Linked DNA regions of Homo sapiens: all the other regions are reported to be linked to region 4. The links are microRNA targets in miRTarBase. Many come from high-throughput screens and were not tested one by one. Region 4 holds a microRNA gene; each other region holds the end of a gene's coding sequence. Distances are between the middles of the regions.

The links. The annotated mature microRNA hsa-miR-182-3p reads UGGUUCUAGACUUGCCAACUA and lies in region 4 at 2,745-2,765, opposite strand. An mRNA with a match to its seed (bases 2 to 7 or 8) in the 3' UTR can be bound and repressed. Matches are read on the target gene's strand: a 7mer-m8 pairs with bases 2 to 8, a 7mer-A1 pairs with bases 2 to 7 and ends in A, and an 8mer does both.
Region 1: the mRNA of HPS4 is a reported target of hsa-miR-182-3p. Seed matches in the 3' UTR shown: 7mer-m8 at 4,783-4,789 and 7mer-m8 at 4,250-4,256.
Region 2: miRTarBase lists PGM2L1 as a target of hsa-miR-182-3p. Seed matches in the 3' UTR shown: 7mer-A1 at 4,866-4,872.
Region 3: the mRNA of SCIN is a reported target of hsa-miR-182-3p. Seed matches in the 3' UTR shown: 7mer-m8 at 2,804-2,810 and 7mer-m8 at 4,037-4,043.
Region 5: the mRNA of ZC4H2 is a reported target of hsa-miR-182-3p. Seed matches in the 3' UTR shown: 7mer-A1 at 1,540-1,546.

Annotation. Positions count from the first base shown.
Region 1 is chr22:26,448,087-26,454,521 of GRCh38, forward strand. HPS4 (HPS4 biogenesis of lysosomal organelles complex 3 subunit 2) reads right to left here. Exons shown (of 14, transcript NM_022081.6): 14 at 2,796-5,318. The coding sequence ends at 5,147. Among named protein-coding and RNA genes, the nearest start is that of ASPHD2, 22 kb to the left of the region's middle.
Region 2 is chr11:74,331,951-74,338,168 of GRCh38, reverse strand. It overlaps PGM2L1 (phosphoglucomutase 2 like 1), which reads left to right. Exons shown (of 14, transcript NM_173582.6): 14 at 1,415-6,218. The coding sequence ends at 1,517. All of the region lies in intron 2 of LOC112268078 (a long non-coding RNA gene), which reads right to left. Among named protein-coding and RNA genes, the nearest start is that of P4HA3, 23 kb to the right of the region's middle.
Region 3 is chr7:12,651,240-12,657,674 of GRCh38, forward strand. SCIN (scinderin) reads left to right here. Exons shown (of 16, transcript NM_001112706.3): 15 at 602-662; 16 at 1,349-6,435. The coding sequence ends at 1,476. Among named protein-coding and RNA genes, the nearest start is that of ARL4A, 33 kb to the right of the region's middle.
Region 4 is chr7:129,767,662-129,774,096 of GRCh38, forward strand. It overlaps MIR182 (microRNA 182), which reads right to left and starts at 2,831; the gene lies at 2,722-2,831. It overlaps LOC105375501 (a long non-coding RNA gene), which reads right to left and starts at 1,544. Exons shown (of 3, transcript XR_927963.4): 1 at 1,027-1,544; 2 at 226-297. RefSeq lists enhancers at 2,982-3,845, 5,572-6,433.
Region 5 is chrX:64,912,043-64,918,477 of GRCh38, reverse strand. It overlaps ZC4H2 (zinc finger C4H2-type containing), which reads left to right. Exons shown (of 5, transcript NM_018684.4): 5 at 582-2,671. The coding sequence ends at 695. Among named protein-coding and RNA genes, the nearest start is that of ZC4H2, 61 kb to the left of the region's middle.

The sequences.
Region 1 (6,435 bases), not on the chromosome of region 4:
GGCTCGCAGCACAGCGCATCTTCTGAAGTCTGGACACACATCCAGGACTCACTTCCTCAACATGCAGAAGGACCACACCCCTCCGGCCCCCAGGTCCTTCTCCCTGTGCTGGGAGGCCATTTGCCTTCTCAGAACACTCAACAGGACCCTCCATTTGCTGAGGGCCCATGATAGGCCAAGTCCTTACATCCATTTCCTTCTCCTGTCCATTTTAAAGAAAAGGACACTGAGGCTCAGAGACAGAAAAGCAACTTGCCCTGATTTCCAGCAATAAGTGGCAGAGCTGCGATTTGAACCCAGCTGTCTGACACCAAAGCCCATGTGCTCCTGCCACAGCCACACAAGCCAGTCCAGCCTGGGTGGGGAGGAAGGATGCACAAGGTGTCTTTGAACAGCACACTCGGTAGAGGACTTGTCTCCCTCTCCTCCCCATGGGTTTGGCAGCCTGGGCCTCAAGCCCTTTCCTCAGGGTGCTTGGCCCAGCTGACAGCGAGGCAGGGCAGGGGAGAAGGGTTGCAACTTTTCGGCTTATACCTCGGCATGCACAGGCAATCATAAAACACCTCCCAGCTCTTGACAGGATTCCAAAGCACTCTCTGGGTTTTATTCTCAGGGGAAGTACAGCTAATTTCAGGTTTGGACATTTAAATACTGGATCAACAGAGAAGGTGTCCTATTTTCACCTTGAAGCCCTTAGAATCTTCACTGTAAGCTTCTCAAACTCAACAAATATGTTGAAGAAAGATCTAGAGTATGTTTTATTTCTAAGCTAGGATGCTGAGAGTGGGTCTGACACCTGCCCTCCCCTGTCTCCTCACAGAGAGCCGGGTGGCAGTCAGAATCAAGAAGCAAAGCAGGAGACAAGTGCTTTCCCACACCCACTGCCCTTTTCCCAGGAGCAGCGGTGGGTTCAGGGGTTGGGAGAGGAGTGTGTGTGTCGGGAGCACAGGCTGAGAGTATTAGTGTGGGTTTCCTGCTCACTCCGTCCGCCAGCTCCTTCAGGGCAGGAATCTATCTCCTTGGCTGCCTTCTCCACTGGGGCTGTCCCTCCCCGCCCCAAACCTCATCAGTGCCCAGGCTCGTCTGCCCATTATCTGGCCTCCTCTCTGCTTCAGCCATTCCACTTCCCACCTGGACAACCATAGCCTCCTGGTGGTTTCCACTGTTGCCCAGCTTATCCCCTACTCAGGAGCTAGTGACCTTCCTCATGAGAACCAGCTCCAGTCACTCCCCTGCATTTTTTTTTTTTTTTTTTTTTTTTGAGACAGAGTCTCACTCTGTCACCCAGGCTGGAGTGCAATGAATCTCAGCTCGGCTCACTGCAACCTCCGCCTCCTGGGTTTAAGCAATTCTCCGGCTTCGGCCTCCCGAGTAGCTGGGATTACAGGCATGCGCCACCCCACCTGGTTAATTTTTGTATTTTTAGTAGAGACAGGGTTTCATCACGTTGGCCAGGCTGGTCTTGAACTCCTGAGCTCAAGTGATCCACCCGCCTCGGCCTCCCAAAGTGCTGGGATTATACAGGCGTCACACCGCGCCCATCCCACTCCCCTGCTTAAAGGCTCCCCTGTGCCCCGCGCCATGGCAACCTCATGTGGGGCCCCAGCTCTTCTCACGCCCTCCGTGCTCTGTGGCTCGGCGCTACTGAGAGAGAGGGAACTGGGCATCACAAGGAGAAAGCAAGTTGGCAGGAGGATGGATTTGTTTCCTCTGGCTGCTGTAACAAATGAGCATATACCCAGAGGCTTACAACACAAACCCATGCTCTCACGGTTCTGGAGGCCGAAGTCTGAAATCAGTTTCACGGGACCGAATTCAGTACGTTGACAGTCACAGTCCCTCCGCACACTCTAGGGCAGAATCCACTTCTTGCCTTTTCTGGCACCTGGTGGCTGCTGGCATTCCTTGACTGGCGGCCACATCACTCCAGTCTTTGCCATCTTCACGTGGCCTTCTCCACGTGAGTAACCTCCCCCTGCCCCTCTCCTAAAAGCACATTTGTGAGGGCATTTAGGGACCACGGGATAAGCCAGGATCATCTCTTCGTCTCAAGATCCTTCACTCAACCACATCTGCAAACATCCGATCCAACAAGGCAACATTCACAGGTTCTGGGGATTGGGACCTGATCTTTGGGGGCCACCATTCAGCTCACTGCACACACAGGGAAGTGGCCTGTGGCAGGGAGGCTCACACCAGAGAAAGGTCTGCTGCTACTCACCCACCCCGAGCAGGGCGGGGTGTTAAGAACGCAGTAACTGGGCGGCATGGGAAGTACATCTTAGCCACATTGGAAAAGACCACCAAATATGCAAGACAGACACCATGGAGGGCGACTTCAACAAAGCCCCTGGGCTCCACTTGCTACCACCCTCTGTCGGTTGAAGTGACAACGGCCCAGAAGTCTAGATGCTTCCCTCCAGGGGAGGAGACAGTTTGATCAGGCTCAAACATCCCCTCTAGGGGTCCTTTCCCAGTAGGAATCTGATTGCCACTTGATATGGTTTGGCTGTGTTCCCACCCAAATCTCATTTTGTAGTTCTCATAGTCCCCACATGTCGTGGGAGGGACCTGGTGGGAGGTAATTGAATTATGGGTGTGGTTACTTCCATGCTGTTCTTGTGACAGTTCTCGTGAGATCTGATGGTTGTATAAGGGGCTTTTCCCCCCTTTCACTCTGCACTTCTCTTTGCTGCCACCATGTGAAGAAGGATGTGTTTGGTTCCCCTTCTGCCATGATCATAAGTTTCCCAAGGTCTCTCCAGCCCTGCAGAACTGTGAGTCAGTTAAACCTCTTTCCTTTATAAAGTACCCAGTCTCGGGTATGTCTTTATTAGAACCGTGAGAACGGACTAACACACCACTATTAATCACTCATGCGACCTTTATCCTTACAGTTCACAGGTGGCAGATGGCTGGCACAGAGGAAGCCAAAACAGAGGCTTTTCTGCCCTGAAGAGTCACTAGAATCTGTGGTCCTGGATCACTGACAGTGGCACTCGGTGTCAACTAGGAGTCCAGGGTGGGCAGGCTGTCCTGCACACTGCCTTCCCTTGGGAAACATGGCCATAAGAGGTTGTGGTGCCCATTCCAGCAAGAACATGCTGCTTGGCTGTCCGTCGCTTGGCCCGTACTCTGGGGGCGCTAATTTTGAGGGGATGGGCCTGGGGCTGTGGGATTAACCGTGTCCTGAGTGACCCCCTGAAACCTCTGAAATATTAAAAAACGGGAAAACAGCGGGTTAAGTGTTTCTTCTCTGCAGCCTCTGGGCCACAGTTACCAAGCTTTAGAGATGACGGCTGCAGCTGCCAGTGCCCTGGGGCTCTGAGCAGAACCTCCACTGCAGAAACTAAGCAGGATCAAAGGAGGAAAGAAAGGGGCACACCTGCAAAGTGAAGTTTCAGGACTTTACTTTTTCTGAGTTAATCCAGGTGCATGAGACTTTTCCATATACACGGATAGGCTTTGTACGGTTCCATTTTGGGTCAGTGGAAGAATTTTCACAACACAAATGACATTATAAAGTTGTCTTCGCTGGCCTGGTACTGGGGACCACTGGTCAAAGACAACGTGAGACATTGCGGGGACTTCCTGGAGCTGCAGCAACCACAGCAGAGAACTTGTAATCAATTTTTTCTGGGAGAACATAGCAGAGGAGTAAGACAACATTTATCCTAGCTTCGGATAGGATCCTCTTCCATCTAGGCAGATGGGATCCAAGAGACAGCAGAGATCCTGGAGAGAGGTGATAGAAGAGGGAGACACAGGCTTGGTGTATTGGATCAGCTGCAGCTGGTGCTCCCTGGAGCAGCAGGCTGCAGCCTGGCAGCCCTACAAACAGACGGTCCTTACCCAGCCACACTGAACCCAGGGAAGGAAAAGAGGGATGCGCCCACGTTACGCGCGCGCGCGCGCGCGCACACACACACACACACACACACACACACACACACACACTGTCTTAACCCTTACCTTTGTCACAAAAAAATGCTGCCATTTAATTACTCAGAACTCCAGCATTTTTTGGCTATTTTATTTCTAGCCCTTGGAAGCTTGTTTCAAGAAAAAGACACCATATCATAAACATCAGATATCAGTTCACTGACATGAAATTATTAACAATACAACTCTCAAATGGAATCTCAAGTACTTCCAGTAAACATTCAGTTAAGATTTTGACAAATATTTTCATCCTGCAGTCTGTCTCATACTGTCAAAAAAATGTCTGACTATAACGTAATAGAACTGAGGTTCTAAGTACCACACAAGCCCAGGAACACACAGCTGAGTGTCGCTCCCTTTCACGCAGCCACCACTGAAAAGCACAGTGCTTTTACCCCCAGACATCTTGTAAACTCCTATTTAGGGACACTCGCTCGAGAGGAACCAGCTGCACGGCCCACTTGTAGTCAAAGGCAGCGCAGGTTGGTCCTGTTGTCACTGAATTCTCAGGGCTCAGCCCCCAGAGCTTTTATAAAGGGATCTCTAAAGCCCAAACTCCCTTCCATATTATTAAGGCTTGCCCCCATTGTGGGTCCAAAGAAGACGCCCCTAGATTTGAGTAGAGTTCCAACAGAATTCAACCAAGTGGTCTCCGTGTGCTGCCGCTTCCCTGCAGGAACGATCCGGACCTCCCAGCAAGAGCGCACTGGAGAAACCTACCTGCGGCGTGGGAGTGGAGTCGGCCTGCTCACAGATCCGGCACCTCGCTGTGCAGTCACACCGCCTACCACCACCTGGTGTGGGGGTTGAACACACACACTCTGGGCTAGTGGACGATCAGGTTCTAGAAAAAATGCCAACTTGGAAGCTTGTGGCACCAATTCAAGCTGGGATGGAACAGCAGGAGATATGAAATACCTCAGGCTCAGTATGGCAGAGAGGGAGCCAAGCCCGTCCCGGCCCCAACACTACCGATTAAATACAGTTCTTTATCAAGTGCTCTGGGTCTGCCGACCTGAAGAACTAACCCCTGCCCCCAAAACACATCCCAATCTGCAAAAGGAATAACAAAAACTCAAATATCATTTGGTTCCTAAAAAAGGGAATGTTTTCAAGAAAAATAAAATAGAGGGGCCTTTTCAATTATAAAAGGCAGAGCTTCCTTTGCTGGTTTTCTCCTTCCCAGTCACCTCCTGGGTGCAGTTCAGAGCAAGTTCACCCCGTGCTTCAGCAGCTTCTGCTTTGCTTTGCCGGAGAGGCTGAAGGCGCCATCCTGAGGGTTTGGGAAGCCGGAGCTCCGTGCTGCAGGTGCCAGCTGCTGGAAATATGTCTCCTGGATGGGGTTGCAACAGGCGTACACAGCCGTGGAGGCATTTCTGTTGGAGGAAGAAAGAAGGCAACGGTCCAATGCTGCTGGTGCTAATCTCAGACCACACAGAGACCTCAGTAAGGTTCTTGTCACAGAGGACCCAGGACACCCAATGTGGCATGTGCAGCTGTCATGGCACGGAATTCTATTTCTTCAGCTGAGTTTCAGGCTTCAGTGCCAATACCATCTTTCCTTCCTTTCAGCTCACTAGATGCTGGAAGAGTCCGTGGCGGGACCATCCACAGTGGCAGCAGCCACAGATCCTGGAGTTATAAGTATTGCATAAAGGAACTGTGGAGTGCTGGCTTTTTTGACATACTGGCAGCTATGCAATGTGCTCTGCATACAGTCTCTGCTTTGCCCCTCACATAAGCTCTGCAGTGGTGGTATGGTCCCATTTCACAGACAAGGACCCTGAGGCTCAGAGTGAGTAGCTGGGGCTGCCCTGCCTCTATGACGAGGCAATGGCAGTGTCCGAGAAAGGAGTCTAGTCTGCTCTCCACACTGGGGGTGGCTGGATAGACTGAGAGGGAGTGAAGGACAGGAGTGGGATGTGACACGAAGTGACAGGAAGCCTGTGGACACAGAGAGGGAGGGATGAGGGCACTACACAGAGGCGGAGCCACCTGGGAGGAGCCAACTCCAGGCCAAGGTAAACAAACCCCCCTGGTTTCTGGATCCTGCCTCTCCAACTATTATGGGCCTCAGTTTCCCCCAAATCTAGTGAGAAAGGGTGGAGTCAGGGACTGCTAAGGCTCCCCTCACTCAATTCTCTCCTTCCCTGTAAGGGAGAAAAATCCCACCCTATTCCAAGCTTCAGTGTCTCCTGCACCCACTGGCCCAGCAAGACAATCTCTTCTCACAGCCCTGTGGGAGGGCTCCGAGGCCAGATGGTTATGAGCATGGATCTGGAGTCACACACACTCAGGTGCTAATCCCAGCCCTATTACTTCCTAGTGTGTGTCCTGGGCTGCTATTCAACATTTCTGAGTCCCAGCTTTTTCATCTGTACAGTGTTTGTTGCAACAGTATGTGTCCTCATTGGTGTTTTTGTTTTGTTTTGTTTTAAAGAATGAGATTAAGTGAGTGCTTAACACATTGTGAGTGGTTAAGAAATGGTAGCT
Region 2 (6,218 bases), not on the chromosome of region 4:
GCCTTTGTGACTGCCGTCTTTTACTTAGTATAATGGTTTCTAGGTTCCACCATGATTCAGTTGTAGCATGAATTTATTCCTTTTTTTAAAGTTTTGTTTTTTATGGCCCAACAATATTCCATTGCATGGCTATGCCATGCTTTTTAATCCATTGATCATTTGATGGACATTCAGATTATTTGCACTCTTTGGCTGTTTTGAATACTGTTATGAACATTTACATACAGGTTTTTGTGTGAATGTATGTTTTCATTTCTCTTAGGTATATACCTAGGAGTGAACTGCTGGGTCATATGGTAGCTCTGTGTTTAACCTTTTGAGGAACTGCCAGACCATTTTTTAAAGCAGCTACATCATTTGGGAATTGAATTTTAAAATTGTATTGAATTTCTATTCTTGGAAAGATTCTCTGAGCTTTAAGTATTATGTGATTAACATAAGGAAATTATCATCAAATAATTTGTTTATTGCCAAATATCCATTTTCTATGTCTAATATGACTTGACATAATCTGTTCAGTTCATTTCCTTTTAAGAGGATGAATTGTGACTAAGTGAATTTCATAAACATATTCAAAGGCTACTTAAATGTATTAAAAGTACTGTCTCCTATAATATTGTAATTGCTCAATATATATTTGGGAAGGAGATTTTTTAGAATTGCTTTCAGAGTCCAACCAAGCTATACTATTTTGTATTTCCCCAAATCTTTGCATTTAAGGATAGATTTCATTTCCTTTGGGGGGGATAAAGAGCCCCCGAAGTCATTCAAAGTAGAATCTAAAGTAAACCAAATTGGGTAATGCTACATCTGGTTGAAAATGAAGGAAGATTATTAAAGTAATAAGAACTGATTTGTTGTGTAGCTTTTAAAATGACTGTAAAGGCAGTTTAAAAGAGGCTTGCCTCGAAATGTTCTGGGCAACGGCAGCACCTCAGTGATGACTTTCAAGGGCCTTCTTTTAAGTGCACATTTATTTTTTTAAACATCACGTTATTTTAGTCACACCTCCTTCTGCTACCTGAAAGATATATCATTCCATAACATCTGTACTGAATATTTTTCAAAGTATTTCAGGAAGCCATTTTCTCCTAACACCTGGTATTTGTGTTCAAAGCCATTAGAACCTCATTCTCCTGACCCAGGAGAATTCTTTAGATACACCATCACTCCTCTGTTTATCATGTGCCAAGGAACTCCTATTAATGCAGTTCACCTTCAGTTTGTGATAGCAGTGTTTTCTTTGTGTGTAATTTTTTTTTTTGGTCTTGTTTTGTTTTAACCAAGTGAATTTCTCTTTTGTTTACCAATTGTTTAATGACTCCATCAGGACCTCTTAAAAAATCACACTAATTTAAATAAATTTTAAGCCTATGAAAATAAATAATTCCAAAACTCTTCATCTTTTCCTCAGTGACACTGCTTTACTGGAGGAAGAACTGAAGAAACTCATTGATGCTCTGATAGAGAATTTTCTTCAGCCTAGTAAGAATGGACTGATCTGGCGTTCTGTTTAGGGGTACACCAATATGTCATGACACTGTGTGGGCATATGGAACAGAGCAACCGAGAACTGCATACATTGAACCTTGTGTTAGCATTCTCTCTCTATCTCATCTGGCCGAGTATCTTTTTCCTTTTATTTTCTTTCTTTTTGGTCAACTGGCTAGACTAAACAAAGTATAAGTTTGAAATGAAATGGTCTAGAGGGAAATGATTCAAATTTTTTCATAATTCAAACAAAAGTTATTACACTAAAAGTATTATAGTAACGTATTGTCCTTCCGTTAACAGAAACATCACAATTCAAAAGTGAGTTTTCTTATTATAGTGTGATTAAGCCTAGTTCTGTATCTCGTAATTGTGTATAGCATGGTAAAAGAAAAAAAAAAAGACAGGTAAATGTTATATAATTGTAGGGTTAGTTAAGGAAATTAGTCCATAAAATTGGCAAGAAAATGGTACTTTCCTTGATTGTTATGAAAAAGTGTCATTGTGACATCACAGGTATTAATTTACAAATTAGAGTATTTGAAATAGGATATTTAGCATTTCTGTAGTTTAGAACAGATGTTACAGTGTGTGGTTTTGGCATGTCTGTTTCAGGTGCCCTTGGTGCAGTATAAATTTACTGTATGTATTTAAAATTCTGATGTTTACTGAACATAAAACAATAGTGGCAACACTCCTATTGGCTTTGTTCTTATCAAATTTCTCAGTGCCTTCTCAGGGTCTGGTGTGAACAGAAAAAACAGTGTTCCTGCATTTACCATAATTTAATCAGTCAATTTGCAGATAGCTAAGGAAAATCTTCCAAAATCTGTAGGTGCTTCCTCTATATCAAGTGAGTTTGCTGATTTTAAAATCTTAGGAATATAAATAAAGATCTTAATAAAAGCAAGCTTAATGTAGTTAAGGATCTTCATATTAGAATTGTGTCATTTATCAAACCTTTTATTACAGAAAAAAATCTGAACTGAGAAAGGAGCTCTGAATTTATTTGACAGTCTAACTTTTGAATTACATTTTTGTAAGTAGATTTATTCTTTTATTTTATGAAGTAATGTTAATTTTACTAAGAATAAAACATCCAAATTTTAAGTATTATGAAATACTAAAACTACATGTTTTAAAACAGAGGTCCAGTTTATTCTAACATCTTGCTGACTTCTGTAGAATTTCTGATTGCATGACTATTATTTATCTTCTTTTAGTGTAGAAAATAATTTTTTACAAAAAGTCACTTTTGGGCTGGGCGCAGTGGCTCACGCCTGTAATCCCAGCACTTTGGGAGGCTGAGGCAGGTGGATCACAATGTCAGGAGTTTGAGACTAGCCTGGCCAATATGGTGAAACCCTGTCTCTACTAAAAATACAAAAATTAGCCGGGTGTGGTGGTGGGCACCTGTAGTCCCAGCTACTCGGGAGGCTGAGGCAGGAGAATTGCTTGAACCTAGGAGGCTGAGATTGCAGTGAGCCGAAATCACGCCACTACACTCCAGCCTGGGCAACAGAGGGAGACTCCATCTCAAAAAAAAAAAAAGTCACTTTTGGCTAATCATGCAGTCTTCTGAAAAGGTTTAATAGAGAAATGCTGTTTAGGCTGGGCTTGGTGGCTCACATCTGTAATACCAGCGCTTTGGGAGGCTGAGGCAGGAGGATTGCTTGAGGCCAGGAGTTTAAGTTACAGAACTATGATCACACTGCCGCACTGAAGCCTGGATGACAGAGTGAGACCTTATCTCAAAAAAAAAAAAAAAAAGAGAGAGAGAGAGAAAAAGAAATGCTGTGTTTAATCTTCTTAAAATGTATCTTGTCCTACATAGTTCTCAGAATACATATGGGGTATAGTTAGGAGATAACAATAACAAGACCTAAACAAATTGCTTATGGGAGATAGCACTGTAATTAGAGAATTTATTTCATATAAAATAATAATATAAAGTTTGAACTGATTAGAATGTTCCTTAAATCATGGTTTCGTTTGTTGCAGCTGTCAGCTAACATTTGGTTGAGCTCATATAATCCAAACCTAATTGTCCAACTATTGTATTGCCACTATTGTTAATTTGTTCCTTCCTTACTTTCTTATTGTTGGATCTTATATGACTGTATGACTGTAGATAATAGACAGCTAGCTAAATGTAGAGCACCATTTTTCTCAATGAGTTTGTTTTCAAAGGCTTTGCACTGGAGAAGATATGTGTAGAATTTTTGTTTTATTTTTAAAATGTGTAAAACATCTTTTGTTTTATATGCTTTTAAGAATGTAGATTGTAATTTAGGAAATGGCATATATTCTGCAAAGTGGTATAATGTTGTATATATGAAAAACAGGTATATTTGGTTTAGTTCTGTGTTTCAGTGACTGATAAACAAAAATGAAGCTAAAATGAATCAACGGCTCATTCATAGTTACTAAAGCCATGTCATGACTGTCATTCTATTATGAAGAAAACAGTTTTATTTGAGTGCTTTAATATAATGCAACATTTAAGTCATCTTAAGGTGAAAAGTTATTGAAGTGTTCTTCTCTCAAGTTAACAAAATTTTACAAATGTTCCTGAAGTGTATCGATTGAGGGAATTATTTTATTCTAGCCTGTCATGAGTCTGTCTGAGCATGATACTTAACATGAACTTGATGTAGTAGGTGCACATTTGCCTAACAGGATAAATTCAGTGATAGCCCAAGCTGGTCAGGAGAGACAGAAGTGCTGGCTAGGAGGTCTCAGCCTCGGGCACTACAATGTTTATCTTTTTCTTTTTGAACAATATTGTGAAAATGATTGCATTCTCATTGAGCATGAAAGTCAAAACTGGAATTTTCTAAAGCTTTGGAGAAAAGGAGAGAATTAGTAGGGCAAGATCAAAGCATACATTGGAAATAAACAGTAGAAATAAGCAAACAATATAAAGAGACACGGGAAATGCTTCTCGTGAAGGGCAAATGTAACACCATAACAGTAGGGAATAAACTGTGTCCCACCTGTTTACTTGTGTTTATTTGTTGTTATGATGAGTATGCACCTACCATTTTCCTTTATTGTGATCACTAAAATGAGGCCAAGGTTTAGGAGGTGAGAAAAAGTATCCCTTTTACGGATTCAGTTCCTGCTAGGATGTTGTATCAGAATCATGTGAGAACTCAGGAAGAGGTAGAGCAGAAATAAAAAGGAAGAAAATGTAGATTAGAAAATAAGACTTCTGAGAAAAAGTTCAAGGAATAAAGATTGTTTGACTCTGGAGAGGAGAAAGCTGTTGAGATAGTTTGCTAAGTTTGCTAATAAAGCTTTATTGAGTCTTTTATTGAAGGGTTCAAAGTAAGAAATACTATGCCATAGTGTTCTCCATCTCTAGTGAAGACAGAACCAGAGGGAATAAGGATCTTTTTTTTAAAGACAGCATGGAAAGTTTAAGATTTAGGAACTTCTTGAGAAATCTTCATAATATCTTCTATTCAAAATCTTTTTTTTATTTTTAAGGGAATAAAAATTTTAAAAATTAAGAGATATACAGATGACTTTTTAAGGGTCCTTCTTTCCAGCACATTTTTTTTAAAAACTCAGGTTAGAACAAAAATGTCATAAAGGGCACTAAAAGTAACATTTGGGTTTCACTCCATATCTAGAAGAATTTAGCTCACAAAACAATTTTTGTGTGTTTTGAGTAACTGATGCATAAGTGCAATGAATAATTTTCCTGCTTCACTGTTATTTTTAATTTAACCTGGCAAATTAAGTGAGACTTGAACAAAATTTTGTTCATCTTGAAGAATGTATAGTGGCTTAGGTTATTTGAGGTTTTCGTTTTGAATATATATGTTGTTATTTTGATGTAGATACGTTAGCAGATGGAGAGGTTCTAAGAGATTGGATACTTTGGAATGTCTTTATATAGGAAATAGACCTCCCATTTCTTAAGCAAGTTGCTTCTGGAATTGATGCAACAGGGATATTAGCTGTAGTTTAATGGATAAGTTGTTCTATGAGCTGCTGCTATCAGTACTTTTTTCCACATTTTCCATTGATATTTGTGATGCTTGAAAAATCCAAACTTCACTTGGATACATTTAATTTTATGCCTTTTTCTCTCTACCTCCCACTTTTCCTAGGCACCCTTGCACATTTTGTTACTGTGAAGGACTATTGCCCTGTTACCTCACTGATAAGAAATCTCAACTGTATTCATTCAGAATGCTTTAAGCTTAGTCATAAACTACATTTGCCTATGGACCTTTGGTTATTTTGTTAATGTTGTCATTATATTTAAGACTTATTGTAGGAAGTAATTTTAAATCTATTTCATAACCTGTTTTGATCTGTCTGCATACTGCTATATGTTAATTTATTACGGCCTTTTACAATTCACTTGTCATCTGAGATTGTTCTAGAAACTGATGAGGAAAGAGTCGTACTAACCAAAATGAATGGGCAATTGACATAACATTCTATTTCAGGTTTCCTTGTACTTGGGGAGCCAAAGCACAAGATCTAAGGAAATCTTATTCACATTTGTCCCTCAGAGCATCTTACCCTAAGCCATAGAGGTATAAATAGTAAGATGAGAATTGCTCATTGTCTGACTCCTTGCACAGCATGAATTTAATTCTAGTTGGAAACAAAGTTAGTGTTGACTACTGGTTACCTTAAAGTATTCACCATACTATATATTTATTAGACCATCTTTCCTCTTTGTTTATTCAAGACTATGTACTTAT
Region 3 (6,435 bases), 120 Mb from region 4:
CATAAAGTATAGATGGTAAATGTTTCTTTCAGACCTTTAAGAGTGTGATACTCTCAGTTAATCTTCCCTAGATCCCGAAAAGGGAGGGCCTCAAAGAAAGTCCGGCTGCACCACTGCAGATTCTCTACAGATGCAGATCTTCCCCTACAAAAGGCAGATTTGCAGGGCTATTTCTGTTTGCAAGTCCTCTGAACAGCCATCTCGAAATATGTCAAAGAAGTGTATTCGGAGGTGAAATATTTTGGTTTCCTTCGACTGCTGTCACACCCTAGGGGGTGGATGAAAAAAAAAAGTCCACCCAGACAATCTGTTTTTTTTTGTGAAAGATCACTTTACAAACTAGAAAGTACCATGTAAACATAAAATATCCAAGTGTGAAATCTGAAGTGAAACAGGCTGGATGTAGATTTAGGTGTCTCCTGATGAGTGTGAACACTGGGAAAGTGATGGTACCTCTCTGGGCCACCACCTCCACGTCCCTAACTTCTGCGGATATTGTGAAGATTGAATGAGCAATGTGTGTGTGAAGCACTTTACATAGGGCCTAGCACTGAGTCAACATCCCAGAAATCATACATATTGTTATTGTTTCATTTTTCAGATATTTATTTGGATTGGCAAAGATGCTAATGAAGTTGAGAAAAAAGAATCTCTGAAGTCTGGTAAGCTCAATCGATGGACCATTATAGCAGTAACCGGGCACCATTATGACCGAGTGTCTGGCTTGCTCTTTGCCACCATGTCTTACAAAAATACATTTCAAAATCAAGAAGTAGCTTAGCATTCCTCCTCAAAACTAAAGAGTAATGGGATTTTTTGAACTGGAGAATTTCCAAATGGGCACAAGAAAACAATATGTTTTGTTATCTAATCTAGAATAGAATTATATCAATTTAATCTGAAAACTTAAATTAATTTCAACCCTTGTTTTATTATAAGAGTAAAACCTCCATGACTGTGATAAGCCAGATTTTTTAAACTTCCTTTTGACTATGCTGTTCTTTCTGGCACAATTTTCCTTTTACTGAAACGTATAACAATAATTATGCCACAAGGACAATTCCATAAAACTTGGAATTCTTTCAGGCATTAATGAGATTCACATGTTGCCTTTCATGGCAGACGAGAGAAATCAAAAAGAAATTGTATTTGTCTACCTGGTCAATGGAAATTTATTACTTTGATTTGAAGAATTGTATTCGAAGAATTTTCATTTTCAATGTAGCCAATATTTATTTGTTCTTCTGGAAATTTAATTCATTACTTTTATTCGAAGAATTTTCAATCTGCAGTTACTTTAGTTTAACCCAAACTAACTGAATTTATATGTCTTTACAACTTTTTTTAGCCAAAATGTACCTTGAGACAGACCCTTCTGGAAGAGACAAGAGGACACCAATTGTCATCATAAAACAGGGCCATGAGCCACCCACATTCACAGGCTGGTTCCTGGGCTGGGATTCCAGCAAGTGGTAAATTGGTATTTGTAAAAAGCAAACAAACATTACAAGGCAGTTATCTCATTGCTGTTTTGGGAGAGGAACGGGAAAAGCTTTTTGCTTATTTGTCTTTTGAAAATTAAGGCTGGGCGCGGTGGCTCACACCTGTAATCCCAGCACTTTGAGAGGATGAGGTAGGCGGATCACTGGGGTCAGGATTTCGAGACCAGCCTGGCCAACATGGCGAAACCTCGCCTCTACTAAAAATACAAAAAAATTAGCTGCGCGTGGTGGTGCACGCCTGTAGTCCCTGCTACTTGGAAGGCTGAGACAGGAAAATTGCTTGAACCCAGGAGGCTGAGGTTGCAGTGAGCCAGGATTGCGCCACCACACTCCAGCCTGGGCAACAGAGACTCTGTCTCAAAAAAAAAAAAAAAAAAAATTAACCTCAACCAAACGCCTATTTTTTAATGCTTAGTTTTGGCTTGAAATTCTTCTTCACCTGGAGTTTTCTTACGTTAATACATTAAAATAACCTGAAGGAAACTTTCGTTATGGGCCAATATTAGCTCTTATGGAAACTGATTTATATCTTTTTTATGACCTTTCAAAAGTAAAATACTATGCATAATCTAGAAAGATTTGTCAGATAGGAAATTTTATAATGCATTAGCCATTAGTCAGAGTTGTTTTTTAACATGCCAGAGAAAAAGTTGTAATGCCTTGGAAGTTATTCTCTTTTCTATAGATTGTGTTCAAAAGATGTGTATACTTGCAATAAGGTTTATGTTAAGGTGGCTTTAACAATTGGTTGCTATTTTCCTTCTTTAGTCAATATGACTTTGATGTCATTAACTGCTAAGTGTTATTTTCTAAGAGGAATTTTATCTTTTTTTTAACCTTATTAAAAGCCTTTGAAAACACAGCTCTTTCATGACAAAATGAATTGTATTGTTATCCACTTAGATACATGTACATGTACAGTACATGTTTAATATCACAGGAGATCAAAAAGACAATGCACAGGGGAGTATCCCAGGGAGCAGAGCCAAGTTCAAGTAAGTTAACGATATCAAGTTACTTACTGGCAGGTAGCCACTAGAGAATCTTAGCAATTTTTGTCCTGCAAGATTTCAGCAAAGCTACAGAAAAGTGAGTTTTTATGTTTTCCATTCTTCCCTTTTCTAAGTAATAATTTTTATCGCAGTTACCCTGATTCTATTCCATTCCATTCTATTCTATTCTATTATTTCATTCTATTTTATTTCCAATATACCATTGTATATCAGTATATACTGATACACTGAGTGGCAGTTGCATTATCTACTAATCTATATAGGTCATTGAAAAAGAAGAAGCTACGTTAGAACCCATGGAAAGAACTTTGCCTCATGTAGAGATTCTAGATTCTTAGCCAAAAGCTCAGAATTGTTGGGCCCTAAAGGATGAACAATGTAGGGTCCAACAATTCATCCCACATGAATTTTTCTCATCCTTCATGTGGAATGAAAAAACTAAAGAGACAACTGACTTACCACACAAATGGACTATGGTAGAAGCTGCTGTCCCTTAGTATTGAATATCTCTATTTTCTTTTAATCATAGAATTCACTGATATTTTAGCAGATAATGTGGCCGTCCAGGCAGGCATGAGATTTCTCAGCCTTACTTCAACTTGATTATGACCATGTGACCCAATTCTGACATTTGCCTAAAGGAAAATTTACCTAAAAAGGCGTTTTCTTGCTATGGCAGTGTAACCTGTACTAATAAATATAGTGCTAGTCCTGCATGCAACAAAAATGATGTAAGTAGACATTTAACATTTCTAGGAATGTAATTGAGTGAAAAATAATTTTTAAAAATATTTATAAATATCTTCTGGGTCAAGCTGAATATTTTTTGAAGGATGATGAGAATAAAATGATTTAATAAGTAGTACTTTTTCACAAAATTAGTAAAGGTCAAGGTGAGTGGCTTAGGGTACACTGTATTTTACGATGTTTCTCTAGTTTAGCCAGTGGTTTTTCTCATCTCCAATTTATAGCACAGGCCGAGGCATATAGTAGGGTCTCAGTTAATATTTATTGAATGGCAATATCAAAAATGAGATCAGCAGCAAGATGATAAGGCAGAATAAAAGTTGCTGAGAGCCTAAAATGATTATTCAGTTCTGTTGCAGGGTTTTAACCTGCCCAAAGGATGGAAAAAGAAGAACATAAGCATAATTTCTGAATGCATCACGGCAAAGATGCATGTACTCATGAAGCATAAAATTAAAAATATGATACATTCACTACATGAAAATATGATATACGGTTTTTCTTCAGTATCCGCGGGAGATTGGCTCGAGGAACCCCATGGATACCAACATCCTTGAATGCTCAAGTCCCTTATATAAAACGGCATAGTATTTGCATAAAACCTATACCATTCTCCTGTATACTCTAAGTCATCTCTGCGTTACTTATAATACCTAATACAGTGTAAACGCTGTGTAAACAGTTGTTATACTATATTGGTTTTTTAATTTGCATTACTTTTGTATTGTTGTATTATTTTATTGTTTTTCCCCAAATAGTTTTGATCCGCAGATGTAGAACCCACAGATATGATAAATCAACTGTATCTAGTACCCAAAACAGATGAGTAACTTAGAAATTAATATGTAATACATACAGCTAATGTTATAGCTACTTAAGGAATTCCTTTCACTGAAAAGAAACTCTTACAAATCAATGAGTCAACAACCCAATGGAAAAATGGCCAAAAGACATGAATAGAAGTTCACAGAAAAGAATGAAAATGACCAGTAAATAATGAAAAGATGTTCTAAGACACTCTTAATTAAATAAATTCACAATAAAATAATCATACTTTTATCTATCTACCAGATTAGCAAATGTTAAAATATTAAAATGTTAGTGGTCATCAAAATGTAGGGTTACAGGTTCACCCATACACTGTTAATAGATGTATAAACTGGTCAAAACTTTTTGATCCATAGCACAGTATTACTTTTGTAAACATACACAAAAAATATTATATATTTGCCAAACGTATGTACTAATCTAAAACCAAACACATTAGACTAGGTACATGTGGAGAAAGAGATACAGGTGTTCCCTAGCAAGTTAATATGCTTGTGTCTCTTCAAACCAATATATTGGCATATTTATCTAATATTTAATCAGAAGAAAGAAAGAACAGAAAGACCCAGGAAGCCTACTGTTAGTAGAGGTCAGCCTCATCTTTTCTCTCTGATTCAAGAAATTCATACTCAACTCAGTCAAACAGAGGTCCTGCATTTACCTCTTGGTGCCGGAGAGCCTTGGTGAGCCATTTAGATCCTCTGTATCTTCTCAAGCACAATCCTCAGTGTTCTCTTCTCGTCTTAGATAGCTCATCAAATAATATTTCCCACCACTTATTTCTAGCAGTTCTGGTAAAGAGAATGGCCTTCACATTGTATTTTGAACAATGTTTTGGCCTCCAGTAATGATTAGGAACACACTATAAACATAAAACATCAGTCCACTTAACTCATTATTCAGTCATCAAGCAATTCTTGTCCCAATCATTCTCCAAAGCTATATACTGTGAATTTATACTGTTGTGTAGTGACACAAGCCCTTCTGCTGAAAAAGTAGGTAGATAATTACTTTGAACTGAAAGAAAACACTTATTTTATTTTCTTTTAAACCTAATTTATTTTAAACCTAATTTATTTATTTTAAACCTAATTTATTTTAAACCTAATTTATTTATTTTAAACATTTATTTTAAACCTAATTCATTTGAACTGAACTTGAATTTAAAAGCCTACAAATGCCCCGCATATGTAGAATTATCATTCATTCCGTGTTCTTGCTCTTGGATAAAACGGACAACTCAGAGAAAAAACTGGCTTATAAATGCACTTCACAAAAACTGTTAGAAAAGTAGCCATTAAACCTGTAAAAAGGCCGGGCGCAGTGGCTGACGCCTGTAATCCCAGCACTTTGAAAGGCCAAGGCGGTTGGATCACGAGGCCAGGAGTCCGAGACCAGCCTGACCAACATAGTGAAACCCCGTCTCTACTAAAAATACAAAAAATTAGCTGGGCGTAGTGGCGGGCGCCTGTAATCCTAGCTACTCGGGAGGCTGAGGCAGGAGAATCGCTTGAACCCGGGAGGCGGAGGTTGGAGCGAAAGTACGCGCCACTGTACTCCAGCCTGCGTGACGATGAGAGTCTCCGTCTCGGGGGAAGAAAAAAAAAACCTGTAAAAAGTGGCTCAACTTTAATATTCATTAGGAAATGACTAAAATCAAATATTTTACTTGGTAATGCCAAGTAAAAATACAGGAGAGGATATAGTGAAACTGGAGCTTACATCCACTACTTGGGAAGTATAAATTGATACAATGGGTTTGAACAGTTTTTGTATTTTCTACTAAAATGAACATACACATATCCTATAATCCAGAAATCCCACTCCATGGTGTGTACCCAACAAAAATGCATACATGTGTGTACTAAAGGATATAATATGATTTTTTTTTTTTTTTTTTTTTTTTTGAGATAGGTTCTCACTCTGTTGCCCAGGCTGGAGTACAGTAGCGATCTCTGCTCACTGCAATCTCTGCCTCCTGGGTTCAAGCAATCCTCCCACCTCAGTCTCCCCAGGAGCTGGGACTCTAGGTGCGTGCCACCACGCCCAGCTAATTCTTTGTAGAGATGGGGTTTTGCCATGTTGTCCAGGCTGGTCTTGAACTCCTAGACTCAGGAAATCCACCTGCCTTGGCCTCCCAATATGCTGGGATTACAGGCATGAGCCACCGCATCTGGACACGAATTTTTAAGTTTTATATATGTGTGTGTATATATATATATATATATATATATATATATATATTTTTTTTTTTTTTTTTTTTTTTTTTGCATTGGCAAAAAAACAAAGATATTGTTTAGCAATTTCCTTGTATAATGCAATCAGTGGAAGACAAATCAGAGGTA
Region 4 (6,435 bases):
CACTGATCAGTCCTGCCTTCCCACCACCCTGGTTCTAGCTCTGCCACCCCCAGCAACCATGTATCCTAGGGAAAGGCAGAAGTCTCTGCAGGGGCTAAAGGGGCACCAGGGAGAAGGTCAGGGTCCACTGGCCACAGTGCAGCCCCCTCCCCTGGCTGTGTGGCACGGGGCCTGCAGCCTCTGGGAGCAGTTGCCAGGGCCCGGGTTCCCTGCTCCACCACTCACCTTGGCTATAAACACTTCATTGTCCTGATCCTGTTTGCTCATCTGTGCGCTGCCCGTGGTTGTGAGGATTCACTGAAATCATGAAAATGTAGCACAGTCTGTGCTCAAAGATCAATAGCTTTACTGTGACTCAATCTGCCCAAAGCCCCCAATTTCTTCTTCAGCGCCCACCCTGCTGAGGCCCCATAATAATTCTATTCCTGCCAGCATGGAGCACCAGCAGCTGTACCAGCCAAATGAAGCTATGTGGGTCGGGGGACAAAGATGATGCAAGGCTCCTCCACGCCAGCTTGGACTATAAAACGCATTCTAATCACTGACCTTACCTCCATGCTTAGCACTTAGCAGTACTTGGGCACCGCGATTATGCTGCTGTTGATCACTACACTAAACCGTTCAGCCCACATCTCCTGGTTTTGTTATTTACAAGCTTAAGAACAGAGAGCAGGCCGGGCGCAGTGGCTCATGCCTGTAATCCCAGCACTTTGGGAGACCAAGGCGGGCAGATCACGAGGTCAGGAGATCGAGACCATCCTGGCTAACACGGTGAAACCCCCGTCTCTACTAAAAATACAAAAAATTAGCCAGGCGTGGTGGTGGGCGCCTGTAGTCCCAGCTACTCAGGAGGCTGAAGCAGGACAATGGCGTGAACCCGGGAGGCGGGGTTTGCAGTGAGCCGAGATGGCGCCACTGCACTCCAGCCTGGGCGACAGAGCAAGACTCAAGTCTCAAAAAAAAAAAAAAAAAAGAACAGAGAGCAGAGCCGTTTCAGGCCCTGGTCTCTGGCAGACCCCTACTCACCTTCCTGGGCATGTATCCAAGGTCCTTCTCCCATGGCACCTGCTTCCTCTGCCATCGTGGACTTAATGGCCAAGTCCAACTCCTCCTTTCATTCTGCACACAGCCACAAGAGCCATCCAACCAGAACACACATCTGATCACACCCCCTCTGGCTGCGTGGCTCCCATGGTCCTTAGGTTCGGGAACAAATGCAGCCTTAAGATGGCCAGCCTTCCAGCCCGGCATAGACCCCAGGAAATCTGTGTGCTCTCCAACAGGAGTCTCCTCCTCTCCCTGAGGGTCACTCATCTTCCAGGACTCCCCACCCCTCCCTGTGTCCCAGCAGGTGCCGTGTGGCCCTAGCTCAGAGCAGCCTTCTTCATGCCCTGCAGAGCCAGCCTGTTTACGCAGCGTCTGCTTGTGCTCACGGCATGTAACATGCATAGTGCAGCCTGCGGGAGAACAGTTCCCTTCTCTTTCTGTCTCAAGAGCTGCCGGCTCAGACCTTCCCTACTCGGCCTGTGTCTCCCCAAAAGAGCGCAGTGAGCTGCACGGAGCCGGTTGAGCCTGGAGCCACCAGATAGATGTCTGCCCCGCCCTGCCCAGCCACAGGGGTTGGTGGGTCATGGAACCACACATGACCCTCCGAGGGCAGGTGAGGAGAAAGGAGGGCTGATGGGGGCTGATAGAAGGGGTTTGGGGGATGGGGAGCACCAGAGAAGGAAGGCTGGCAGGCCGAGGGCTGGGGAGCAGGGGATAGGCCTTCACATTTGCATTTGCACCGTTCACTGCGGGCTAGGCCACACTCACACACACACTTACACCTGCACCCACACCCTCTCAACCACACGCGCAGCTCCCACTCTGGCTCCTGAGCCATCTGCAGGCCAGGAGACTCCAGGGCCGGGCTTCCCCAGCAGGTCTGCCCACCAAGCCCAACTCTCTGGGAAGTGCCACTCACTCTGACCCTGTGGCCCGGCTCCGGCTCAGGGGAGCTCCCACTGCAAACACAAGCTCTGGGAAGGTGAGTGGAGGCTTTGTCTCAGGTTCTGAGGCGTCAGGAGGAACAAATCCATGAAGTGGAATGCTGGAGGCATAGAGGTCCAGCCCATGGGCCACCTGCACCCCAGGGGGCCAGTCCCGCATTTACACAAGTGACTTGTACACTCTCCTCCTGCACATCTCTGGAGGCTTATCCCATCTGGCCCTCCATGGCCTCAGCAGGATCACTGGATGTCCGTGATGCACGGCGTGCCCTCCCTGCCCTCATCCTCCCAGCCAGCAGCCCAGGAAGGAACCACTCTTAGTGACCTGTGGAAGGTTAGGAGACCCTCCCTCGGGGCCCTAGAGCCCACCCTGAACAGGGCCTTTCAGGGGAGAGGGTGAGAAGGTTCACCACCCAGAGGAGCCAGGCCAAAGCCCTGAAACCAAACATCCCCCAGTTCCCTCACTCCTCGATTCAGACTCCAGGGCCACAGCCTGGAGCAGAGCTGGACCCCAGCTCCTCTTGGCAGCACCCCTGAGGGCCAGAGAACGGCTTCCCAGCTGACTTGAGGACCTGTGACCTCAGGGGGATGCAGGGAAACACAGAGTGTCACTTCCAGCTGCACCTGCCCTCTGCCACTACCCAGCAGTCCGGGACCTGAGTCCCCTCCTTCCTCGCGGAGAACAGCAGGTCCAGCATGGCCGGCCCTTCCCTCGCTGGCTGTGCACAGGGTGCCGGCTGAGTCCTCGCCCCATAGTTGGCAAGTCTAGAACCACCGGATCCTGTTACCTCACCAGTGTGAGTTCTACCATTGCCAAAAACGGGGGGAGGCAAGCAGCTCCCCCCAGGAGCTGGGGAGGCCTCGGTCTGTGCTGAGGAAGAGACAGAGACAGTTAGGATGGTCCAGGCAGGGCCAGGACAGAGGCGCCCATCCCCGCAACTGCGACAAGGTCCTTCCTGCAGGGTCGCCCTGGTGTGGAGGCCCAACCCCACAGTCCCCCTTCCTGCTGGTCCCGGTCCCTCCTCAGCCCCCTCCTCTCCTCCCTTCCCCTCATATCTGTAACCTGCAGTTCCTGTGGGCAGGCATGGAGCAGACACCATCCCTAGGGCAGCCACCAGGATCCAACCCAGGCCCTGAGCTGTGGTCACCACTCCCAAGGGAACCCGAGGGCACCTCCACTCCCAGCACCTGACAGCAGGGACTCTGGGAACCAGCACAAGCCAGGCCAGAGAGCCCTGCCCCTGGGCGCTGGGGAAGAGATGGCTAATGTGGGCTGGGTTTTGCTATTTACTAAGCCCACGTCACTGCTCCATTTAATCCAGAGAGATGCTCCCAAGCCATTCCCTAGAGCCTAAAGCTCACAGGCTGCCCACCCCAAAGGGAGAGAGGGAAGTTGCTACACAAAACATTCCTCCTCCCTATCAAGTCCAAGGGAGGAAGAGCATTCCACTTGCCAAGGCCTCTTCCCTAAAAGCAGTGGACAAACAATGGCGCTGGGACCTTCTACCCAGGAACGGGAACAGGCAGCCTCTGGGGCCATCAGTCAGTGGCAGGAATGGGCCAAGCTAAAACCAACCAAATATCTCCCATCCAGACGGCACTCTCCTGACCACAGAACCCACTGCACACACCCAGCAGCCCTGCACACACCCAGACCCTTTGAGGGCTGGCTGCGATCTGATTCTCGGAGTGGCATTTCCCCAGACCGCCAGTCACTTACCCAAGGGCAGCACACTTCCGTGTTCCCACTTCCCCTGATGAGGCCAGGTCCTTTCCCAAGGGGTGTTGAAGTGTCCTGAAGGCATCTCAAGCCTTTAGCAAGGGTGCAGGCTGCCTGCCCCCAACCCTGCATCCCCATGCCTCCCCTGCAGCCTGGAAGGGACTCTTTGCCCTCAAGCCTCCTGGGCAGTATGGGCCCACCATGAGCAGGCTCATTTTCCGAACATGCCCCGGCTGGGGGAGCAGCTGACTTGGCAGGGCCCCCAAAATGACACCGCTGCCGCCGCCACCGCCACCACCCCTCCCATCCTGCCTGCCCTTTAGGGTGGAGTGAGATGGGATGATGGCTTAAGATGCAAACAGATCCAGGCCATCCCCAGGGCCAAGTCCAGGACCTCGGTGGCACCCAGACCGGACCGGCAGCCTGGGCTTGGGCGCTGGGGAGGACACCTCTGCCCGAAAGGAGAGGCTTGGTGGGGAAGGTTTGGCCTCTGAGCAGAGGCACGACTCTGGAAGCCTCTCCGAGGGTGGGCGGGCCTGCTTTGGGACATCAGCAGCACTGGGCTCTCTTGGTCCCATGGAGCCCCCAAGCCTGGGACTTGCTGAGGAGGCCACTCCCACCCTCCTCCAGTGTGTATGTGGGGGGTCCTGTCCTCCTCCCCACCCAGCTGTGGCCGCACCAGCCGGGCTCCATCGGCAGCCTGGGGCTGCAGGCGATCAATGGTGCCGGATCGCATTTCGACCCGCCTGAGGCTGGGCAGAGGCTGGGATAATGGCCTGGAATGAATAAGCAAATGGAGTGGTGGGGGAGGCGGGGAGTCTGGAAAACCCACTCATACAGCCCTCCAGGGAGCTGCCCCTCCTGCCGCTCCACGCACCCAGACAGGCCAAGCAAGGTGCCCGACATGGGGGACGCCCTAAACCCGGGCATCTGGGAGCCGCTGCTTTTGACAAACAGAAAAACAAAGCAAAAAGTGCTTCTCAGTGACCCTCCCGCTCCAGCAAGAAAGGCCTTCGCTGCAGTGGGACAGCGTTCCTGCCTGACACTGGACACCATTGGACAGATCATGGGCAGAACCTTTTGCCCATCTCACAGACCTTCTGGAAGCCACACAAGGGAGGATCCAGGACCTGTTCTGCAGGGTGGGGAGGTGAAGAGGGGCCCTCTCCTATCCTAAGTGCCCCCAGCCTGGGTGGTAGGAAATTGTGTCTTTAGGGAGGAGGGCCAGCTGTGGTGGCCCCCACTCTCTGGGACAGTCACTGTTGTGGGTGAACTCACCACCCAGGTCTGGCCCGGAACTAGGTAAATTAGGAGATCTAGAAACTAGCTTTGGCCTGAGGTCCTCCCCTGGAGCGCTGGAGCAGGGCCCCAGAGCAGCCGGGCCTGAAGCCTGGTGGAGGCACGCCCCCACACCAGTGCCTGCACTCGGGGCTCAGCAAAGGCGCCCACCTGGGCAGGTGTGAGGAGGTGGAGCCCAGCTGCAGACCACCCAGGGGCTGAGGGCAGCTTCTGTCATCCGGCCTTCCCCGCTAGGCAGGAAGGAGCAGAACCCTGGCCAGACACTCCAGAGGCTCCAGGGAAAAGCTCTAGAACCGGTCACTGCCAGGGGCCTTCCACCCCCCCTTGCTGGGTCTCTGTGCCCACCCCACCTCCAGGGCTCATTCTCACTCAGGCCGGGAAATCCCTTCTTTCCTATCCCATGGGACCTGCAGCAGGACGCCCTAAGGAAGCACCCGGGGCGGAGGACTGGAGCACAGAGACAGGGTGCGGCACAGGCCAGCCAGGTTCCGAGGGGCAGAGGGAGAGCTGGGGCCATCAGAAGAGAGACCTAGCTACAGGGACACCTCACCAGGGCAGAAGTCCCCTTCTATCCTGAAATAAACAAGCCCCTCCTTTTTTCTGCAGGGGCTTGGAGAGCTTCTGTAGAGAAACACGGGCACCACACCCCAGAGGGAATTTATTGGGGGCTCCTCGCGGTTTGGTGATAGCTAACTGACAAGAAAAAAAAGGCCCAACCCACCCAAGGCAGTCCCCAGGGCACCCAGGCAGGCAGCACTGGTCACCATGTTCCTGCTGTGCAGTCAACTGGACCCGTCATCCTCCAGCTGCCAGCTTCAACCACACACATCCCCCACCCGGGCACTCCCTGGCTCAGACACCTAAAATGACTCCCACTGATCTGGGCTAAGTCCACCAACCCTTGCCTGAGGCTCCCTGGGGAGAAGCAGCCCCATCAGGGGCTGGCCCAGTGACCTGGGGCATGATAGCTCCCAGCTGGTCCCAAGTCGGCCACTGGTCTCCTGCTTGATTGCTGACCACCAGATTTCACATGGGTCCAGCCTGGCTGGCCAGGCTCTCCCCAGCTTTGACAGACTAGGTCCAGGCCTCCCAGCCTCAGTCTCTGCCATCTGGGGCATCCTTGGGAGCCCAGGCCTGTAGATTCAGAGCTGAGACACCTCCAGGCCCTGGGTGCCTCCATGGAAGGTGTGGCTGGTGGCGGAAGAGCCACAGTGACCCAGCTCTACCACTCACCAACCTCTTCAGCCAAGCCTTTCCTCTCAAAGCCTCAGGTTCCCCATCTATGAGATAACTATTTTAAAAAATTACAAGCCCCACAGGGCTGAGGTGGGAACTGTTGGGATTATATATGTAATGTCACCTGACACCCAGATGGAGAGCATAGGCCAGTTAGTCATAGCCCAGATCCAGGGACCCAGGAAGCTA
Region 5 (6,435 bases), not on the chromosome of region 4:
CAAACAAAGAGACATTCTTCTAGAGCAGGGGTCATCAAATTACAGCCTACAGGTCAAATCTAATCTGTTCCCTGTTTTCGTTAAAGTTTTATTGGCCCACATGCATGTCTGTGTTTGCAAGCTATTGCAAACAACATGCATGCAAGCTATTGTCTATCACTTCTTTCATGCAAAACAGAATTGAGTAGTTGCAGCAAGTTTATATGATGTAAAAAGTCTAAAGTATTTGCTGTCCTGGCCTTTACAGAAAATGTTTGTTGACCCCTGTTCTAGAAAATTAAATAGTCCTTAAGTGGGCCTGTTAGACAATGCTTCATTATAATGACGAAAAGATGTGTAGTTCTCATTTTGCCTTACTTTCTAGTTTTGTATACTTTTTCTCAACACCATTCTCTGAACTGGGTTATGTCCTTCCTTCCCATCTTCCATGGCATCCAAGAATACTTGAGTCTACTCACTGATTATTGCTCTCTTCTGATGGGAAATCACTTTGCTTTCTGGGCCCCTGGGGAATCAGAAGTCTAAGTTGTTGCCTGGAAGAATCTGACTACTAACTTTCTTTTTCCTGTGTCCCTCACCAGGCCTGCTTGTCATGTCACCAGCAAATTCACCGGAATGCACCTATATGCCCTCTTTGCAAGGCCAAGAGTCGGTCCCGGAACCCCAAAAAGCCGAAACGGAAGCAGGATGAATAAAGAAAGGGAGAGCACATGAAGCTTTGCTAATTATAACCCCTCACCTTGACCAGAGTCATTGATGTCCTGATGTGAAACAACCCTTGCCCAACCCCACGAAGTCTCCTATTTAATGTGATGGAAGCACAACCCCTCTCTCACTTTGCTCCTATTTCTTTCTGCTCTTGGGATTTCTGGTTTAGGAAGAGATGTGGTTCAGGTGCTAAACAGTGTGTCTGATGATCCCTTCTCTCCCACTCACATTTCAACCCCTGCCCTTGTTTGGAGCTAAGGGAAGGGCAAAAGGCTCAGATATGATTCTCTATCTCTTGTGCCTGAGGCCTGGAGCCTAAGGAGCTGTAGGGTCTGAGGGGCAGGGGAGGCCCATATCTTGTTTCAGGTAAAGGACCCAGTATTTCCCCTCCTTGTACTTTTGCCTTAGGTTCTCAAGGGACAATAGTCTTCATGTTGGATTCTCCAACAGGCTGGGTGCATGTATCCCCCTACTCCTACCCTCATCTCATCCTTAAGGCCCAGAGGTAGCTTGGACAAGCCCTCCTTTTCATAATCATTTGGGAGGCATGGCTGTAATTCTTTAGCTTTCTCCACTTCTGTCTCCCACATATACTAAAATTCTTAGGTACTAGGCTGTGTGTCTTGGGATCTTAAGATCAATGAACCTTTCCCCAATATCTAGTCTTTGCAAATTCTAGTAGAAGATTTCCACAGTGAAATCAGTGAGCCAGACCAACTCTACATCTCCTGCCTAACCTACTGCCTAAGTCATTAGGGCTGAGGGCTCGGCTGTAGGGGCTTCCTTAGGCTGAGAGTGCCCCCAGGCTGACATCTGTGTTGGCTTTTGTTCAGAACCATTACTCTGGCACATGCTCAATGGTATATTGCAGGGAGGAGAGGAGTAGATTTAGATTTGAGTAAATGCCAATCACTTTACACATGAAGGTGGGTGGGACTTTCCTTCCATTCATCCCTTGCTCTCTTGGATCTGAACTCTTCTGGAGCCTCAGCTCAGGATAGCTGCTGGCCACTCCTGTCCTGTGGATTGTGCAGGTGGCCTTTCCTCCCAAAAGAAAAGGCATCAGGCTCCCCAAGCCCCACAGCTCTCCTTTCCACCAAAGCCAGGTTTCCTGGTAAGGTCACTCGAAGATAAGGGATGGGGATGGGGGCTGACTGACAAAAAATTTTAGCCCCAGGTCTCAGTACCTGGCTGGGGAGGGGGATATTTTTCCTTCCTTAAGTAGTTTTACATTGCCACAGTGTGTATGTGTTCACTATATAAAATGTTCCTCTGCTCTTTGAAAGTAAGAGTGTTGTGTCTGTACAAATCCTTTTAACATGCATTCATTGGAGTAAATTCTGAGTATCTACTGTGTATTGGATAATACAAAAGATGTAATGTCATTTACCTTTCTGGGTAGCTCTTGTTTGCTCTTATTCATTCCACCTTACAAATGAGAAAGCCAGGCACCAAGGACAATAATTTACCTAATTATCACAATAATTTCCATTTATTTAGCACCTACTCTGTGCCAGGTACCTATGCAAGTTGCTTAATATAAATGATTGTATTTGACTTCCAAAATACCTTACAAGCTAAGTATTCTTATCACCATTTTAAAAAAAAAGGGATACTGAACCTCCAAAAACTTAAAAGCTTTTTCAGAGTTAAACAGCTAGTAAGAGGAAATTGCAGGATTTGGAGCCAGCTTTGTCCAACTCCAGAGCTCATTTTTTTCTACTTCTTCTCCATGATCATTTTTAAGAAAACCTTTCTCCCTTTCAGAATGGCTTGATGATGAGAGTGGTTGAAATAACTTTGGAACTGAAATCAAGAACTGGGTGTCAAATGACTGATTCAGGGATATAAAGGCCAAGGGCTCTCTAAATAATATCCTGTACACTAATCTGTCTCTGTGCTTGTCAGGGAATTCAACAGCTAAATAAAACCTCTCTGTGCCTCAGTGTCCTCATCTGGAAAATGGGGAAAATATTAGCACTTATTTCATGGGATTGTGAACAATGTGAGGCACATAGTAAGCACTCATAAGTATTAACATCCTTTTATTCACTGTGCCTCTGGGTTTAGGTAGATTGGAACACTAGTCAAAAATTATACTACTCATCTTCCCTGATATCACCCCAGGTTTTGTATAGCTACAGACGTGCTTTTGAAGTGGCTCAGGCTCACTCTGGGCAAAGGGAGGACAGTCATCTGTGCAACTTGGAGTACACCTTAACCTGTATAGGCCTTAGTGAGTCCCTGTAAAGTACAGGAGGCATGGCCATAGCTCTGCATCCTTGGCACAATGGAGGTCAGGTCTGTCAATTATGTTGTAGTGATGGTAACAGGTTTTGAACTCTGAGCACCAACAGCCAGGAAAGCCATTTCCTAGGGATGCTTTTGAAGGGGAAGAGAGTAATCATGTGTTGAGCACCTACACCTGCCAGCCACTTGGTGGGTCACTACTATCTCATGTAGTCTTTCTGGTTCATTTATCTATTGCCGTGAAACAAACCACACAAACACTTAATGGCTTAAAACAACCATCATTTATTTGCTCATGACTCTGCAGTTTGAGCAGAACTTGCTGGGAATGGCTAATTTCTGTTCTATGTGGTTTTGCCTCAGACAGCTTGGCTAAGGCTGTAAGATCCAAGATGGCTGCACTCTCATCTGGCACCTCACCTGAGGTGGCTGGAACAGGAGTGGGCTGGATGTCTTAATACCAACTCCAGCCTTTGTAGTCTTTTATCCTCCAGGGCCTTTCTCCATTTGGCATTTCACTTCAATAATCAGACTTTTTTACCTGGCAAGTGGCATCCAAGAGAGTGAAAACCAAAGCAGACTGACTTACCCTTCTCTTCCTTCTTCTGTGTCTCTCCTAACCCCCTTGTATTATTTTTTTCATTATATTTTTGTTCCTTCTCTTAATTCTTTATTCTCCCTTGAGCAAGTCTTGGGTTCACCTGCTCCACTGCACTTAGGCAAAAGAAACACAGACTTTTGAGGTAGACAGACTTGAGTCTGAGCTGGCTTTGCCCCTTCCTACTTGCTGGGCAATTACTTTACCTTTTTGAGCCTCAGTTTTATCATCTGTAAAAATGGACACATATAACACACATAAACAGCAAGGCCTTTTGTGGCATAAAACCAGAAGTCACATAGCAATACTGCCTCTGCACTCTATTGGTCAAAGTGAGTCACAGGGCCAGCTCAGGTTTAAAGGGTAAGGGAAATATATATACTCCATGTCTTGAGGGGAGGAGCTGCATGCATGTCAGAGATGGGAGGAATTGTTGCCAGCCATATTTACAGACAATCTACCACATTTTCTGACAACAGTATTTTAAGGAAGGTGTTATTAGATTGATGCAAAAGTTGTGGTTTTTGCCACTACTTTCAATGGTAGACACCACATTTACTTTGGTACCAATGTAATATGCATCCCTTTTTACAGGTGATATAACTGTGGCTCAAAAAAGGTAAAGTTGTTGCTTAACAAACAAGTAGGAAGGGGCAAAGCCAGGTCAGACTCAAGTCTGTCAACCTCGAAAATCTGTGTTTCCTTTGCCTAAGTGCAGTGCTGCAGGTGAACCCAAGACTGGTTAATGGAGAATAAAGAAAGGAAGAAAAGGATCAAAAATATAGTGAAAAAGAAGACAAGGGGCTTGGGAGAGAGAGAGAGAAGAAGGAAGAGGAGGGTGAGTAAGAAGAGTAACAGAAGTAAGACAAGGTATCCTTTATATTTGCTTTACATTGAAAGCACTTTCTTCAACATTTCCATTTCATGCTCACCTTGTTCTGTTGGTAAAGAATGTATTATTAACATACACATTTTACAGATGAGGATAAGGGAACCAACTTGCCCAATAAAGATTACATAGCAAGTTATGAGCAAAGCCATAACTAGAACCTAGGCCTTCCAATCTGGGAATCACTTAGGCTGTAGCATTCTCTATATGCTGCACACAGCAGGGATTAATTGTATGCATGTTTTGTGCCAGAGTTGGCTGCCTTTATTTATTTATATATATATACTTTAAGTTCTGGGGCACATGTGCAGAACATGCAGGTTTGTTACATAGGAATACACATGCCATGGTGGCTTGCTGGACCCATCAACCCATGATCTACATTAGGTATTTCTCCTAATGCTATAGCTCCCCTAGCCCCCCACCCCCTGACAGGCCCTGGTTTGTGATGTTTTCCTCTCTGTGTCCATGTGTTCTCATTGTTCAGCTCCCACTTATGAGTGAGAACAAGTGGTGTTTGGTTTTCTGTTCTTCCGTTAGTTTGCTGAGAATGATGGTTTCCAGCTTCATCTGTGTCCCTGCAAAGGACATGAACTCATCCTTTTTTATGGCTGCAGAGTATTCCATGGTGTATATATGCCACATTTTCTTTATCCAGTCTATCATTGATGGGCATTTGGGTTGGTTCAAAGTCTTGCTATTGTGAAGAGTATTGCAATAAACATATGTGTGAGTGTGTCTTTATAGTAGAATAATTTATAATCCTTTGGGTATATACCCAGTCATGGGATTGCTGGGTCAAAAGGTATTTCTAGTTGTAGATCCTTGAGGAATCGCTACACTGTCTTCCACAGTGGTTGAACTAATTTACACTCCCACCAACAGGGTAAAAGCATTCCTGTCTCTCCACATCCTCTCCAGCATCTGTTGTTTCCTGATTTTGTTAATGATCACCATTCTAACTGGCACGAGATAGCATCTCATTGTGGTTTTGATTTGCATTTCTCTAATGACCAGTGATGATGAGCTCTTCTTCATATGTTTGTTGACTGCATAAATGTCTTCTTTTGAGAAATGTCTGTTCATATCCTTTGCCCACTTTTTAATGGGGTTGTTTTTTTCTTGTAAATTTATTTAACTTCTTTGTAAATTCTGGATATTAGCCCTTTGTGAGATGGATAGATTGCAAAAATATTCTCCCATTCTGTAGGTTGACTGTTTACTCTGATGATAGTTTATTTTGCTGTGCCAAAGCTCCTTAGTTTAATTAGATCCCATTTGTCAATTTTATTTTGTTTTTTTTTTTTTTTTTTTTTTGCCATTGCTTTTGGTCTTTTAGTCATGCAGTCTTTGTCCATGCTTATGTCCTGAATGGTATGCCTAGGTTTTCTTCTATGGTTTTTATGGTTTTAGGTCTTCCATTTAAGTCTTTAATCCATCTTGGGTTAATTTTTGTATAAGGTGTAAGGAAGGGATCCAGTTTCAGCTTTCTACATATGGCTAGCCAGTTTTTCCAACAACAATTATTAAATTCCCCATTACTTCTTTTTATCAGGTTTCTGAAAGATCAGATTGTTGTAGATGTGTGGTGCTATTTCTGAGGCCTCTGTTCTGTTGCATTGGTCTATATATCTGTTTTAGTAACAGTACCATGCTGCTTTGATTACTGTAGCCTTGTAGTATAGTTTGAAGTCAGGTAGCATGATGCCTCCAGCTTTGTTCTTTTTCTTTGGGATTGTCTTGGCTATGCAGGCTCTTTTTTGGTTCCATACAAAATTTAAAGTAGTTTTTTTCTAATTCTGTGAACTAAGTTAATGTTAGCTTGATGGGGATAGCATTGAATCTATGAATTACTTTGGACAGTATGGCCATTTTCACAATATTGATTCTTCCTATCCATGAGCATGGAATGTTTTTCCATTTGTTTGTGTCTTCTCTTATTTCCTTTAGCAGTGGTTTGTAGTACTCCTTGAAGAGGTTCTTCATATCC